Linked DNA regions of Homo sapiens. The protein of the gene in region 3 interacts with the protein of the main gene of each other region in a biochemical or structural test. Each region holds a gene or a part of one and is shown on either strand. Other genes may lie near its edges.

Evidence for each region. The genes of interacting proteins can lie anywhere in the genome.
Region 1: the proteins of APBA2 (region 3) and FZD10 interact in a test that uses a peptide from one of them, tested with the Homo sapiens proteins (one large-scale study listed by IntAct).
Region 2: the proteins of APBA2 (region 3) and RAMP3 interact in a test that uses a peptide from one of them, tested with the Homo sapiens proteins (one large-scale study listed by IntAct).
Region 4: the proteins of APBA2 (region 3) and AXIN1 interact in a test that uses a peptide from one of them, tested with the Homo sapiens proteins (one large-scale study listed by IntAct).

What each region holds. Positions count from the first base shown.
Region 1 is NC_000012.12:130,161,219-130,165,263, forward strand, and holds the start of FZD10 (frizzled-10 precursor), read left to right. Parts: upstream 1-1,245; 5' UTR 1,246-1,724; coding exon 1,725-3,470; 3' UTR 3,471-4,045. UniProt on the Homo sapiens protein: Receptor for Wnt proteins. Functions in the canonical Wnt/beta-catenin signaling pathway.
Region 2 is NC_000007.14:45,181,791-45,184,750, forward strand, and holds the end of RAMP3 (receptor activity-modifying protein 3 precursor), read left to right. Parts: intron 1-1,366; coding exon 1,367-1,622; 3' UTR 1,623-2,460; downstream 2,461-2,960. UniProt on the Homo sapiens protein: Accessory protein that interacts with and modulates the function of G-protein coupled receptors including calcitonin gene-related peptide type 1 receptor (CALCRL), calcitonin receptor (CALCR) and G-protein coupled estrogen receptor 1 (GPER1).
Region 3 is NC_000015.10:29,102,474-29,105,973, forward strand, and holds part of APBA2 (amyloid-beta A4 precursor protein-binding family A member 2), read left to right. Parts: intron 1-2,905; coding exon 2,906-3,085; intron 3,086-3,500. UniProt on the Homo sapiens protein: Putative function in synaptic vesicle exocytosis by binding to STXBP1, an essential component of the synaptic vesicle exocytotic machinery. May modulate processing of the amyloid-beta precursor protein (APP) and hence formation of APP-beta.
Region 4 is NC_000016.10:286,940-290,331, reverse strand, and holds the end of AXIN1 (axin-1), read left to right. Parts: intron 1-724; coding exon 725-892; intron 893-2,083; coding exon 2,084-2,210; 3' UTR 2,211-2,892; downstream 2,893-3,392. Other genes in the region: PDIA2 (protein disulfide-isomerase A2 precursor), read right to left, coding at 3,219-3,263, 3,387-3,392. UniProt on the Homo sapiens protein: Component of the beta-catenin destruction complex required for regulating CTNNB1 levels through phosphorylation and ubiquitination, and modulating Wnt-signaling.

The sequences.
Region 1 (4,045 bases), on a different chromosome or scaffold from region 3:
GCGGGGGAAGGGAATGGCGGGGGGACGTCGTGTCCTAAGTGACCCCGTCACAGACCCGCCCCAATCCGAGGGGGGATGAGCTCAGAGGACCTGCCCAGGACGCTCCTTCTCCACTTTCCAGGAAAACCGAGCGGCGTGCGCGCCTCCGTGTCCTCGCGGGAGCTGGGGGTCCCCGGGCAGGCGCTGACGCGCTCCTCCCACGACCCACTCCATCCCACCCTACTCCGGGTCCTCCTGCGGGGCTGCAGCCAAGGAGGGCGCTGGCCGGGCACATCACTCGCCAAATCACATAAATACCCCACGAGCGAATGACTTCCTATAATAAATAAACTCAGCCGCCAAGAAGGCATCTCCAGCCCTGCTGGCGCGAGGCCCCGGCTCTGCGGCTTCGGAGGGGGCGGGGGTCACCGCGGTACAAACCAAGCCCGCACTTCCCGCGGGGTGGGAGGCGGTGTTCAAAGTCCCGGGACGCTTCCCGCCCCTCCCCCTTCCCGCCTTCTTAGAGGAGACCTCGGATGAGCGGCCCTAAAATCCGGATTCTCGAGCCCCTCCCCCTCCCCTTAGCTCGTCTCTTTGAAATTTCAAAGAAAATCCCTCCTCGGAGCCCGGAGCCCGGGGCTGGTAGCACCTCCCCAGCCTCAGGAAGATGCGGGCAGGTTTACAAGCAAGGGCCTACTTTATGGCCCAGGCTATAAAACGCAAATCCCACCTCCCTTTGAAAGCGCCCTCCGCCCGGGACTCACCATAAAAGGAAGAGAAGATGCACCCCGCGCCCCTCGCCGCGGACCACCCCCAAACCCCTTCTCCCGCCAGTCCCCGAACTTCCCGTAACCTCGGCGTCCTCGGGGTGCCGGGGACCATCCCGGGGACCGCCGGGAAAGGGGGCGCCGGCGGAGAGGATAGCGAGAGGCAAAGTTGGAGGCCAGGCAGAGAGAGGGCGAGGAGAGGCGGGCGGGACTGCCGGGGAGGGTCGCAGCGCGCAGAGCCCCGCGCGCCAGGCGGGCTGTCCCGGGGCTGGCGGGCGACGCGGGCGGGACTAGGCGCTGCGCCCCCCGCAGGCTGGGCTGCAGGCCGGGGGGGATCGGCCCCCGCGGGGCCCGGGAGCCCGCGGCGGGGCGGCGGGGAGGAGGCTGCCCCGGGCCGCTGCGCTTTCTCATGCAAAGCAGCGGCGGGGCGGGGCGCGCGGCCCGGGGGCGGGGCCTGTCAGCGCTCGGCTTTTCTGCCCCCCTTTGCCTTTTTGCGAGTCTTCTCATCCCGGGACGCAAACCTCGAAACAGCTGCCGGCTGGTCCCGGCCGAGGCCGGCGCAGGGAGGGAGGAGCCGCCCGGGCTGTGGGGGCGCCGCGAGCTGGGCCGGCCTCGGTGTGCCCGCGCCGCCAGCCCGCTCCAGACGCGCCACCTGGGCGCTCCAAGAAGAGGCCGAAGTTTGCCGCGGCCGTGAGTTGGAGCTCGCGCCGGGCCGCTGCGCCGGGAGCTCCGGGGGCTTCCCTCGCTTCCCGGTATTGTTTGCAAACTTTGCTGCTCTCCGCCGCGGCCCCCAACTCGGCGGACGCCGGGCGCGGAGAGCCGAGCCGGGGGCGCTGTGCGCAGCGCTCGGGCCAGGCCGGGCGGGCATGGGCGGGGGCCCGAGCAGGGGTGGAGAGCCGGGGCCAGCAGCAGCCCGTGCCCGGGAGCGGCGGCGCTGAGGGGCGCGGAGCTCCCCGCGAGGACACGTCCAACGCCAGCATGCAGCGCCCGGGCCCCCGCCTGTGGCTGGTCCTGCAGGTGATGGGCTCGTGCGCCGCCATCAGCTCCATGGACATGGAGCGCCCGGGCGACGGCAAATGCCAGCCCATCGAGATCCCGATGTGCAAGGACATCGGCTACAACATGACTCGTATGCCCAACCTGATGGGCCACGAGAACCAGCGCGAGGCAGCCATCCAGTTGCACGAGTTCGCGCCGCTGGTGGAGTACGGCTGCCACGGCCACCTCCGCTTCTTCCTGTGCTCGCTGTACGCGCCGATGTGCACCGAGCAGGTCTCTACCCCCATCCCCGCCTGCCGGGTCATGTGCGAGCAGGCCCGGCTCAAGTGCTCCCCGATTATGGAGCAGTTCAACTTCAAGTGGCCCGACTCCCTGGACTGCCGGAAACTCCCCAACAAGAACGACCCCAACTACCTGTGCATGGAGGCGCCCAACAACGGCTCGGACGAGCCCACCCGGGGCTCGGGCCTGTTCCCGCCGCTGTTCCGGCCGCAGCGGCCCCACAGCGCGCAGGAGCACCCGCTGAAGGACGGGGGCCCCGGGCGCGGCGGCTGCGACAACCCGGGCAAGTTCCACCACGTGGAGAAGAGCGCGTCGTGCGCGCCGCTCTGCACGCCCGGCGTGGACGTGTACTGGAGCCGCGAGGACAAGCGCTTCGCAGTGGTCTGGCTGGCCATCTGGGCGGTGCTGTGCTTCTTCTCCAGCGCCTTCACCGTGCTCACCTTCCTCATCGACCCGGCCCGCTTCCGCTACCCCGAGCGCCCCATCATCTTCCTCTCCATGTGCTACTGCGTCTACTCCGTGGGCTACCTCATCCGCCTCTTCGCCGGCGCCGAGAGCATCGCCTGCGACCGGGACAGCGGCCAGCTCTATGTCATCCAGGAGGGACTGGAGAGCACCGGCTGCACGCTGGTCTTCCTGGTCCTCTACTACTTCGGCATGGCCAGCTCGCTGTGGTGGGTGGTCCTCACGCTCACCTGGTTCCTGGCCGCCGGCAAGAAGTGGGGCCACGAGGCCATCGAAGCCAACAGCAGCTACTTCCACCTGGCAGCCTGGGCCATCCCGGCGGTGAAGACCATCCTGATCCTGGTCATGCGCAGGGTGGCGGGGGACGAGCTCACCGGGGTCTGCTACGTGGGCAGCATGGACGTCAACGCGCTCACCGGCTTCGTGCTCATTCCCCTGGCCTGCTACCTGGTCATCGGCACGTCCTTCATCCTCTCGGGCTTCGTGGCCCTGTTCCACATCCGGAGGGTGATGAAGACGGGCGGCGAGAACACGGACAAGCTGGAGAAGCTCATGGTGCGTATCGGGCTCTTCTCTGTGCTGTACACCGTGCCGGCCACCTGTGTGATCGCCTGCTACTTTTACGAACGCCTCAACATGGATTACTGGAAGATCCTGGCGGCGCAGCACAAGTGCAAAATGAACAACCAGACTAAAACGCTGGACTGCCTGATGGCCGCCTCCATCCCCGCCGTGGAGATCTTCATGGTGAAGATCTTTATGCTGCTGGTGGTGGGGATCACCAGCGGGATGTGGATTTGGACCTCCAAGACTCTGCAGTCCTGGCAGCAGGTGTGCAGCCGTAGGTTAAAGAAGAAGAGCCGGAGAAAACCGGCCAGCGTGATCACCAGCGGTGGGATTTACAAAAAAGCCCAGCATCCCCAGAAAACTCACCACGGGAAATATGAGATCCCTGCCCAGTCGCCCACCTGCGTGTGAACAGGGCTGGAGGGAAGGGCACAGGGGCGCCCGGAGCTAAGATGTGGTGCTTTTCTTGGTTGTGTTTTTCTTTCTTCTTCTTCTTTTTTTTTTTTTATAAAAGCAAAAGAGAAATACATAAAAAAGTGTTTACCCTGAAATTCAGGATGCTGTGATACACTGAAAGGAAAAATGTACTTAAAGGGTTTTGTTTTGTTTTGGTTTTCCAGCGAAGGGAAGCTCCTCCAGTGAAGTAGCCTCTTGTGTAACTAATTTGTGGTAAAGTAGTTGATTCAGCCCTCAGAAGAAAACTTTTGTTTAGAGCCCTCCCTAAATATACATCTGTGTATTTGAGTTGGCTTTGCTACCCATTTACAAATAAGAGGACAGATAACTGCTTTGCAAATTCAAGAGCCTCCCCTGGGTTAACAAATGAGCCATCCCCAGGGCCCACCCCCAGGAAGGCCACAGTGCTGGGCGGCATCCCTGCAGAGGAAAGACAGGACCCGGGGCCCGCCTCACACCCCAGTGGATTTGGAGTTGCTTAAAATAGACTCCGGCCTTCACCAATAGTCTCTCTGCAAGACAGAAACCTC
Region 2 (2,960 bases), on a different chromosome or scaffold from region 3:
GTGGCTGAGGCCCAGGAGAGCCAACAGCTTTGTACTTGGATTCGAGGCTGTTTCTTTTGCTCTGGCTGTTCTCTGCTGACACTACCTGGAAAGGCACAGGTGTGTGTCTGACCTACATTCCAAGGTGCTGAGAGCCAGCCTTGGATCAGTCAGGAGCTGGGCTGAGTGACTGTACCTGGGCTTCCCAGACCCTTCCTGGGGCATGGGGTTGGGAGACCAGGAGAACCCTGGGTGGAGTAGGTCAGAGTCCCTGTTTCCTACCCCTTTCTGATGCTTTGGGAAATCTACGCCCAGATGATGTTCCATGCAGGAGGCAGCTCTTTCCTGTTGATGGGCCAGATCAGTGGCTCCCTCCTGGGACAGCGCGGGAAGGAGGAGATGGGCTACTTTCCCATGGGGAAGCCGAGGCAGGACCCTTCACACTCCTGCATCTGTACTCATGCAGCACAGACGTGGGGAAGTGCTAGCCCTGCACAGAGGGGGTGGCATCTGGGCAGGAGTCCATCTAGCTTCGTCTAGAACATCCTGAATGAGTGGCTGCCACTCTAGGCCTTGCAGACCCCAATGACAGGGAGGTCATCACCTCCACAGGCTGCCCATTGGAACAGGTGGTGGCTGGGAAGTCCTTTATGCTGAGTTGACCTCTGGGTCTTGGTGGCTATAGCCCTTGGTCAGCATGAGGACTGTCCAGAGCCTGTGCTGGGCGGTCATGGAGCATCATGGGTGGTTTGCTGAGTGCCCTTCCCATCTTTGATCTCATGGACAGGGGGACCCACAGGAGGGGGCTCCACATGTCCTGCTAGATGGGGCTGAAGGAGGCAACTTCTGAGTAGGAGATGAAGAGGCAGGGACTGGGGCTCACAGGTCTGACTCCCACTTGGCCACCACCTGGCACATGAGGGCAGGCTGACTTGATTAGGAGGTGGCTGGCCCCTGGCCTCAGAGAGACCCTCCTCTCAGGCTCTTAGGGTATCCTGGATGATGAAGGCTTTGCAGGTCCAAGCGGCTGTGATCCAGGCACCCTTTGGCCCTGGAGAAGCATGGCTTGGTGTGTCCTCTGGGCAGACCTGCGTAGTGCTTAGAGGTCCAGGGAAGCTGGGCTGAGACCCTGGATCCTGGGAGCTCATGGCCTCAAAGGCAGCAAGTCATGGTCATTGTGATGCAAATGTGGGCAGGGGACACAGGGAATGGGTCATGGGCACAGATGACCCTGTGGCCAGAATGGGGATTTTCCAAGGCTGGGCTGTGAATAGGTGGCCAAATGGGACTGTACCCAAGCCACCCCACCCATCTTCCTGGCCTCAGGTCAGGGCAGGTGTGAGGGGGGATGGCGAGAGCCTGGCTTTCACCCCCTCTGCTTTTGCAGGTACTATGAGAGTTTCACCAACTGCACCGAGATGGAGGCCAATGTCGTGGGCTGCTACTGGCCCAACCCCCTGGCCCAGGGCTTCATCACCGGCATCCACAGGCAGTTCTTCTCCAACTGCACCGTGGACAGGGTCCACTTGGAGGACCCCCCAGACGAGGTTCTCATCCCGCTGATCGTTATACCCGTCGTTCTGACTGTCGCCATGGCTGGCCTGGTGGTGTGGCGCAGCAAACGCACCGACACGCTGCTGTGAGGGTCCCGGTGAGATGGAGTGGGTCACACCTGGCAAGCTGGAAGAAAGTTCCCTGGGGATGGGAGAGCGGGTGGGTGCTGCCAATCTCCAGCTACTGTGGCCACACCCCACCTGGTCATGGGCAGACCCCTCCCTTCCTGGGCTGACCTGCTCCCTCGAGGCCAGCCTGCTCCCTGGCTGAGGCTCAGGCTATCCGCCCAAGCTCTTTGCTCATTCTAGGGCCAGTGGAGGAAAATGTGATAAGGCCAGAGCTTGTGTGCTGGGCACAGAAATCACCTGCTGCATCCTGTGCTCCGCAGGCTGGGCCGGAGCCTCTGCCCGCAGGTTTCTATGCTGTTTCTTAGCACAGAATCCAGCCTAGCCTTAGCCGCAGTCTAGGCCCTGCTTGGACTAGGACTCCTTGCTTGACCCCATCTCTGGTTCCTGCCCTGGCTCCTGCACCAGCCCCAGCTCCTGCCTACATCCAGGCAGAAAGATAGGCAGGGGCTCTTGGAAGACGTTCCGTGCTGTGACCTCCGAGCCCTCCTGGTGGGAAGACAGCTGGAAAGGCTGGGAGGAGAAGGGAGGGGCTGGGGGTTCCCAGGAGCCATGCGTGGCCTGCAGAGTCCATTCCATCATGATGCTGTGCCCGCTATGGGCTGTGTCCATGACCAGAGGCTGGAGTGGGGGTGTGTTAGAGCCCCTCACCGGGACTTGCTGTGCGGATGGGGCCTGGGCCTCCTTCCTACAGGGGCTCCTCTGTGGGTGAGGGGCCCTCTGGAATGGCATCCCATGAGCTTGTGGCCTCTATCTGCTACCATCTGTGTTTTATCTGAGTAAAGTTACCTTACTTCTGGAATTTCCTGTTTTGTTTCATGTTATTCAGAGAGACGGTGCATCTCTTGGGACTGATGAGTCCCCTGTACATATTGTACAGATAGGGAACAACTGAGGTTCTGGAATCCCAGAATGTCAGCGCTTAGGGGGCTCAGAGAGTGTTACAATAGGAGAGGGGCCTGACAGGAGGAGGGACTTGCCTAGCTACTCGCAGCCCCTTGGGCACTTCCCATCCCTGACCCATTGGTTTGAGGATGACAGGGAAGATTTCTCTCTCTTCTGTTTTCCCTTTGCAGCTGCCTTGGGCTTGCTAGGACCCCTGCCTGGGTTTTCTGGGGACCGAGAGGCCCTGGTCAGGTCTGGCTGGAGGCAGATGCTGGTCCTGGGGGGTCCCTAGAGCAGGTGGAGGGGCTTTATCTCCAGGCCTCTGGCCAGGCCCTTGTCCAGGCTCCAGTTCTGTGGACCTGTGTCTTTTGCATGTGGGCTGTTGGATCCAGGATCTTCTTGCTGGATCCCAGGACC
Region 3 (3,500 bases):
GCTGGGCACGGTAGTTCATGCCTGTAATCCCAACACTTTTGGGAGGCTGAGGTGCGTGGATCACCTGAGGTCAGGAGTTCAAAACCAGCCTGGCCAACATTGCGAAACCCTAGTCTCTACTAAAGATACAAAAAAATTAGCCAAGCTTGGTGGTGCGTGCCTGTAATCCCAGCTACGTGGGAGGCTGAGGCAGGAGAATTGCTTGAACCTGGGAGGCGGAGATTGCAGTGAGCTGAGATCGTGCCATTGCACTCCAGCCTGGGTGACAAGAGTGAAACTCCGTCTCAAAAAAAAAAAAAAATCTATCCTTCAGGGGCAGTTGGCCAGGGCGTTCTTTTTCACATAAGGACTTGAGGCTGTCTCAGGGACCTGGGCAATAGGGAAGGGTCCCCATATTGTCATGATCCTGACATACAGCATGGAAACTGAAGACAGGGTTCAAACCTTTGGCTGGCGCAGTCATCTTCTTCCTAAGAACTTGGGTCCACTTGAAGTGCTTCGGCGCAATGGCAGATTTACAGGAGGGAGAGAGCATTTCAACAGCGCACTCACACATTCCTTCCACCGCTACACGGAGACCCTTCGAAACCTGGATGGGTATTTCTGTGTGACTGAGGGCCGAGGATGTGTGAGAGACCTGGCTTGGGGATGGGCCACAGGTACTGGCGGAATGAGGCCAGGAGCAGGCCCGGTGGCGAAGGGTGGCAGTCAGCTGGTGAGAGTTTCCAAGGGGCACTGAGAGCCCCCAGGTGCAGCCGATGCGGAGGGTTAAAGCCAGGGTATGCCGTATTGGGTAGATGAGGCCGCAGGGTGGTCCTGCCAGCAACAGCAGCCTCCTCTTCCCCACCTCTCCAGCGCCTGCAGGCTCTGCCCACAGCCCACTTGCAGGAGGCCGCTTGAGCCCTGAGGTGGGGCCTGGGCTGGGCTCCTGGACTCACAGCAGTGAACGCCCACAGGCTTGGCTGCGAGTTGGGGCCGGCAGGGCGACCCCTTCTCTGAAGCGCCAGCCGCAGAGAGAGCCCCCTGAACCCCACACCTCCCAGGAGGCAGCCGGTACCCGGCGTGGAGTGACGGGGAGGCGGCGGCTGGCGGCACACCAGCGGCCCAGATGACACCGGAAGGAGGCGCAGCCCCGCGGAGCCGGCTCCCCGGGCTTGGAGCTTCCGCGGGGGCGGAGGATGTCGTCCAAGGGGAGGAAGAATGGCGGTGGCCCGAGGGAGCCCAAGTGGAGTCCGAGGGCCGTGGGTGGTGGAGCCGGGCCTCCGGGGCTCCAGGGCTCTCAGGCCGTCCTTCCCAGCCAGGTGGCCTCGTCAGGCGGAGACAGAAGCAGAGGCCTGGGGGCCGCCCTCCGCTCTTCCCAAAGGCCCGACCCTCTCCTGCGCGGGCGCTGCCCCCGGCCCTCCTGCCGAGCCCCATCAGCTCGCCAACTCCGCAGGCCAGCCCGGCGGCGCCATCTGGCGGTCCCCGGGCGTCGCGCCTCCAGCTGGGTCTGTGCGCGCGGCAGAGATGCTGGGCGTGGGAACCGGCAAGTCCTGGAAACGGCTTAGGGCCCGTCAGGGAGGGCAGTTCCACGCCTGCTGGAGGGCAGGCCGCCTGCTGCGCGCTTCTAATCCGGCCCAGCTTGTCTTTCCCAATGCATACATTCATCTGCTGCTCTTACATCCTGCCACGTGGAGAGTGGGAAGGGAATTGAGGCCAAAGCCCTTGTTTTCACCTGTTTTGGGATCCTGTTGAGTAGGAGTTTGCTGGGGGCGCCCGTGCAGGACCCCCTTGAGGGCAGTTGGGGAGGCACGTGAGGAGCAGGACAGCGCATAAGGAGGGCTCACACAGCCCAGAGCCTGGCGGGAGGCCCCGCTGTGGGCTGAGGCGTCACCAAGGCCGCCAAGAGCCCCGCCGCGCTCCCAGGGCTGCACAGCTGCCAGCCTGCTTGGCGAGCTCCGGGAGCTCAGTACAGCCCTCACCTCCCACTGTCTCCTGTCTGCGCACCAGCAGGCGGCCGGCCAGGCCCTGAGTGCTGTTTCAGTGTCCAGGCCTTTGCCATGTCAGAGTCGGTGATGTCCACTGAAGCAGCTCAGCGGAAGTAGAAAGAAGTGACGTGCTTCATGGGGCCTGTGTGGAGTCCCAGGTCTCATGTCTTGCAGGCCTGGCCTGGCACAGCCACACATCCCTAGAAGAGCAGCCAGGCACACCCTCTGCCTCCAGTGGGCACTGGGTTCTGTTGCTACCGATAAATACATGCGGGGTAGACAACTAGCAGCACGATGCTCCCGGAAAACACACTGAAAGTCCATTTTCGGCATCAGATGAGTGGAAAGGAAATACAGATGGGGTCAGGTGCAGTGGCTCACACCTGCAATGCCAACAGTTTGGGAGGCCAAGGCAGGAGGATCACTTATGTCCAGGAGTTTGAGACCAGCCTGGGCAATATGGCAAGACCCCTATCTCTACAAGAAAACTTTTTTTAATTAGCTGGATGTGGTTGTGCTCACCTACATTCCCACTCCAGTCTGGGCAACAGAGCCAGACCTCATCTCGAAAGAAAAAAAAAGCAACAAAAATATGACATGTAGTAAATAATTCATTGTTGTCCCAGACTTTCTTTGAAACAGCTTTGACCTGGAGCATCTGGGCCGTGCCACAGCTTAGGCAGGGACAGTCAGGAGTAGACCCTTTGGGGTTCAGGGCAACACTGGGGTTCGCTCACGGTGGAGTGCTGGTGGGAGACAGCCTTCATCAGATGAGGGAGGGCCCCCAGTTTCTTTCTTGTTCTTCTAAGCCCGAGCAAGGGCTCCCTTGAAGGCTTATGGGTGCATCCTGCACCCAGCCCTGCCGCAGCCCCCTGCTGAGGAGGCTGCGGGGAGCCTGTGCCACGTGCCTGTCTCCAGCTGGCCTGCCCTCTGCACAGGCCCAGCTCATCGCCCAGTCTATCGGCCAGGCCTTCAGCGTGGCCTACCAGGAGTTCCTGCGAGCCAATGGCATCAACCCCGAAGACTTGAGCCAGAAGGAATACAGCGACATCATCAACACCCAGGAGATGTACAACGACGACCTCATCCACTTCTCAAACTCGGAGAACTGCAAGGAGGTAAGCCACACCCACCAGCCTCAGGGAGGCCACATTTGCCAGCTTCTGCTCCCTGAGCTCCTGCAGAGCGAGCCTTCCCGGGGTCCTCACGCACACCCTTGCCTTCCTATCAGACTCCAGTGGGGCCCGGAATGTGCACCTCGCTCCTGCCTTCCAGCTGAGCACTTGGGTGTGAAATGAGGTGTTTGTAACAAAGAAGCTGATTACAGTCAGCTTTAATGACCTCGAAAATGCGCCTTTTAATGCTGCTATTATCATCAACCAGCACTCAGCACCCAGGAGATATTTCTGAAAAGCATGTGGCATCTCTAAAGGGAGCCTGGGGGCTCTGGCAGAGGAGGCTGGAAGCCACCAGTAGCAGAGGCCTTAGCTGGTCCCAGTGGCTTCCCCCAGGGGACTTTGGAAAGTTCTTATG
Region 4 (3,392 bases), on a different chromosome or scaffold from region 3:
CTTCCTGCCCTGGTGTTGGCTCTGGAAGCCTCTGGTGCACCCAGCCAGGAGGAGGCCCAAGGGCTGAACCCCAGTGGGCCAGGGGCAGCTTCTGGAGTCACTTGAAGGACAGGTGGCGGCGGGGTAGCCGAGTGGGGGGTGCGAGAGCAACCAGGCCCCGCCCGTCATCCCGGCACGGCTGTGGAAGCACAGCACCTGTCAGAGGAGGGCCCGGCTCAGCCTGGGCAGGAGACGGTGCCAGCCCTGCCCCCTCTGAAGGGCCTGCTGGCCACCCCCGCCCCAGTCCTCCGACAAACTTCGCTGCGGGGTCAGGCTTATCCAGAAATCGTGCACAGTTCTGTTTGTCCAATCCCTGCCCTTCAGATGTTTTTAAGGTTTGGGGGCCGTAGGTCTTCCTGAGATAGGAGCCCTGCAGCCTGCCCTGCCATCCTAGAGGTGGGAGCTGCAGTGCACCTGGCAGCCAGGCCCTGGCCAGTCGAGGGTGGGGCTGTGAGGCAGCAGGGAGACCTTCGTGCTCCCAGTGAGCGGAGCCGACTCCACTGCTAGCGGACTAGATCCCAGATTGAGATGCTGTGCGGGGGCTGCGGGCCCCAGGTGTTTGAATGGGGTGCTGCTCACCCCTGCAGGCCTGCCCCGCCTTACACTGGCAGCCTGAGGCCAGCAGGAGGGACCCTGTGGGACCTCAGTCCAAAACCAGGTACCACCGCTGCATCTCTTTCCCCAGGACAAGATCGCAGAGGAAGGTGGGCGGCGGGAGTGCCCAGCCGTGTGACAGCATCGTTGTGGCGTACTACTTCTGCGGGGAACCCATCCCCTACCGCACCCTGGTGAGGGGCCGCGCTGTCACCCTGGGCCAGTTCAAGGAGCTGCTGACCAAAAAGGGCAGCTACAGGTGAGTGTGAGGGCTGGGGTGCCCCCTCCCCGCACGAGTATGTGGGTGCCCAACGGTATGAAAAAGAGGGTTTCCAGCCGGGCACAGTGGCTCACGTCCTAATCCTGGCACTTTGGGAGGCTGAGGTGGGCGGATTGCCTCAGCTCAGCAGTTCGAGACCAGCCTGGGCAACATGGTGAAACCCCGTCTCTACTAAAAATACTAAAGAAATTAGCCAGGTGTGCTACTTGGGAGGCTGAGGCAGAATTGCTTGAACTCGGGAGGCAGAGGTTGCAGTGAGCTGAGATCACGCCACTGCTCTCCAGCCTGGGTGACAGAGCGAGACTCTGTCTCTACCCCCGCCCAAAAAAAAAAAAAGAAGAAAAAGGGCTTCCGGCCATTTCAGCTCATGTCCCTCATCTGCAACTAAAGCCACTTCTCCAAGCCCTAGGCTGAGGGTGGCATCAGGCTTTCGGCCCCACAGGACTGAGAGGGTCCAAAGGGACCCCCGTCCAGGGCCCTCATCTTCGGGGTGGGAAAACAGAGGCCAGACCCCTAGACGACGATGGTCTGAACCTTGTGTTAGGCTCCCCTAGGCCGACCTTGTCTCCAGGCTCTGGACTCATGTGCTTTTGCCTGACTGAAAAGCCAAGCCCCCTCCTACCAAGGTTCATTCGCCCTGGGCCACTCAGCCCTGCAGGGCCCTGCGTGCAGCCAGCCTTGGAGGCTCCCGAGTGAGCACTGGGCGGTGAGCAGAGGGGGCCTGACCCCAAGAGCCTGGCAGAGCCTGGCGGGTGGTTCCCACCGTCCACAAGCCACTGTGCAAACACCCCATGACTGCAGATGTGGTGCTGAGGGAGGGCCCCAGTTGGGGTCACCTCCATGACGGGGCTCAGCCCTTGGGAAGCAGACACCCCACACCCGTCCACTTCCCCCCTGCAACTCCTGAGAGGCTGGGGCAGGTACTCCCAGGGGGATGTGGGGTGCTCCCAGCAGGCAGTGAACTCACCCCCCATGGCTGCCCACTTCACCCACATGTGGTCATTGCACTGTTCACTGTTGCCCTGGGAGGGGGCGCACATGCAGTGGGGGCCGTGGGGCATGGACAGGAGGCTCCTCGGGATGGGGTGTGGACACGCCGTCCCCTGCCACAGGCCTCCTTCCCATCTGCGGTGCTGCCTGCTCACTGCCCTCCTCACCTCCGTCCTGCAGATACTACTTCAAGAAAGTGAGCGACGAGTTTGACTGTGGGGTGGTGTTTGAGGAGGTTCGAGAGGACGAGGCCGTCCTGCCCGTCTTTGAGGAGAAGATCATCGGCAAAGTGGAGAAGGTGGACTGATAGGCTGGTGGGCTGGCCGCTGTGCCAGGCGAGGCCCTTGGCGGGCACGGGTGTCACGGCCAGGCAGATGACCTCGTACTCAGGAGCCCGATGGGGAACAGTGTTGGGTGTACCACCCATCCCTGTGGTCTACCCGTGTCTAGAGGCAGGTAGGGGGTCCCTCCAAGTGGTCCACAAGCTTCTGTCCTGCCCCCAAGGAGGCAGCCTGGACCACTCCTCATAGCAATACTTGGAGGGCCCAGCCCAAGTGAGGCAGCCGAGGTCCCTGCTGCCAGCTTCAGGTGACCCCCCCCCATCCCCCGGCACCTCCCTTGGGCACGTGTGCTGGGATCTACTTTCCCTCTGGGATTTGCCCACGTACCCAGGTCTGGGTGGGGCCCAGGCCCGGATGCAGAGGCCTGCAGGGCCTCTGTCAATTGTACGCGCCACCGAGTGCCTTCAACACAGCTTGTCTCTTGCCTGCCACTGTGTGAATCGGCGACGGAGCACTGCACCTGCCTCCAGCCGCCGGCTGTGCAGTCCTGGGTCCTCCTTTCTGAGGGCCCGTGTAAATATGTACATTTCTCAGGCTAGGCCAGCAGGGGCTGCCCGAGTCTGTTTTTCATGCGATGACACTTGTACAATTAATTATCTTTTCAAAGGTACTTGGATAATAATGAAATAAAACTGTTTTTGAACCTGCCCTGGCTGTGGTGTGTCTTCTGCGGGTGGGGCCTGGCCTAGGTCTCCCAGCCTCAGCCCCCGTGGTAAAGGAGGGCACACTGGCCTCCAGCAGGCATGGGGATCACCTGTGACTCAGAGGCTGGCAGGGCTAGAGCAGGAACGTGCTCCACCTTCCTGCCCTGGAGCCCCCAGCTGGGCAGAGCTGCATCAGGCCAGCCTTGCTGAGGGACCAGGCACACAGAGTCCAGAACCAAGCTCACTCTTTATTCACAATGCACAGCTCCCTCTGGTACCCAAGGGGGTGGCTCCTGTCCAGCAGTGATGGCGGGGGTGACACGGGGGCAGCTACAGTTCCTCCTTGGACCCCATAGTGGAGTTGGCCGGTGGCTCCTAGAAAGGGTCACAAGTGCAGCTCGAAGCTCTGCTCCCAGCCTACCCCTGCCCCCGCCCCTGCCAGCCCTGTGTAAAGAGGATTTGTGCAGAGGCCTGGAGCCCTGGCTTAGGGACACCCACCGGGAA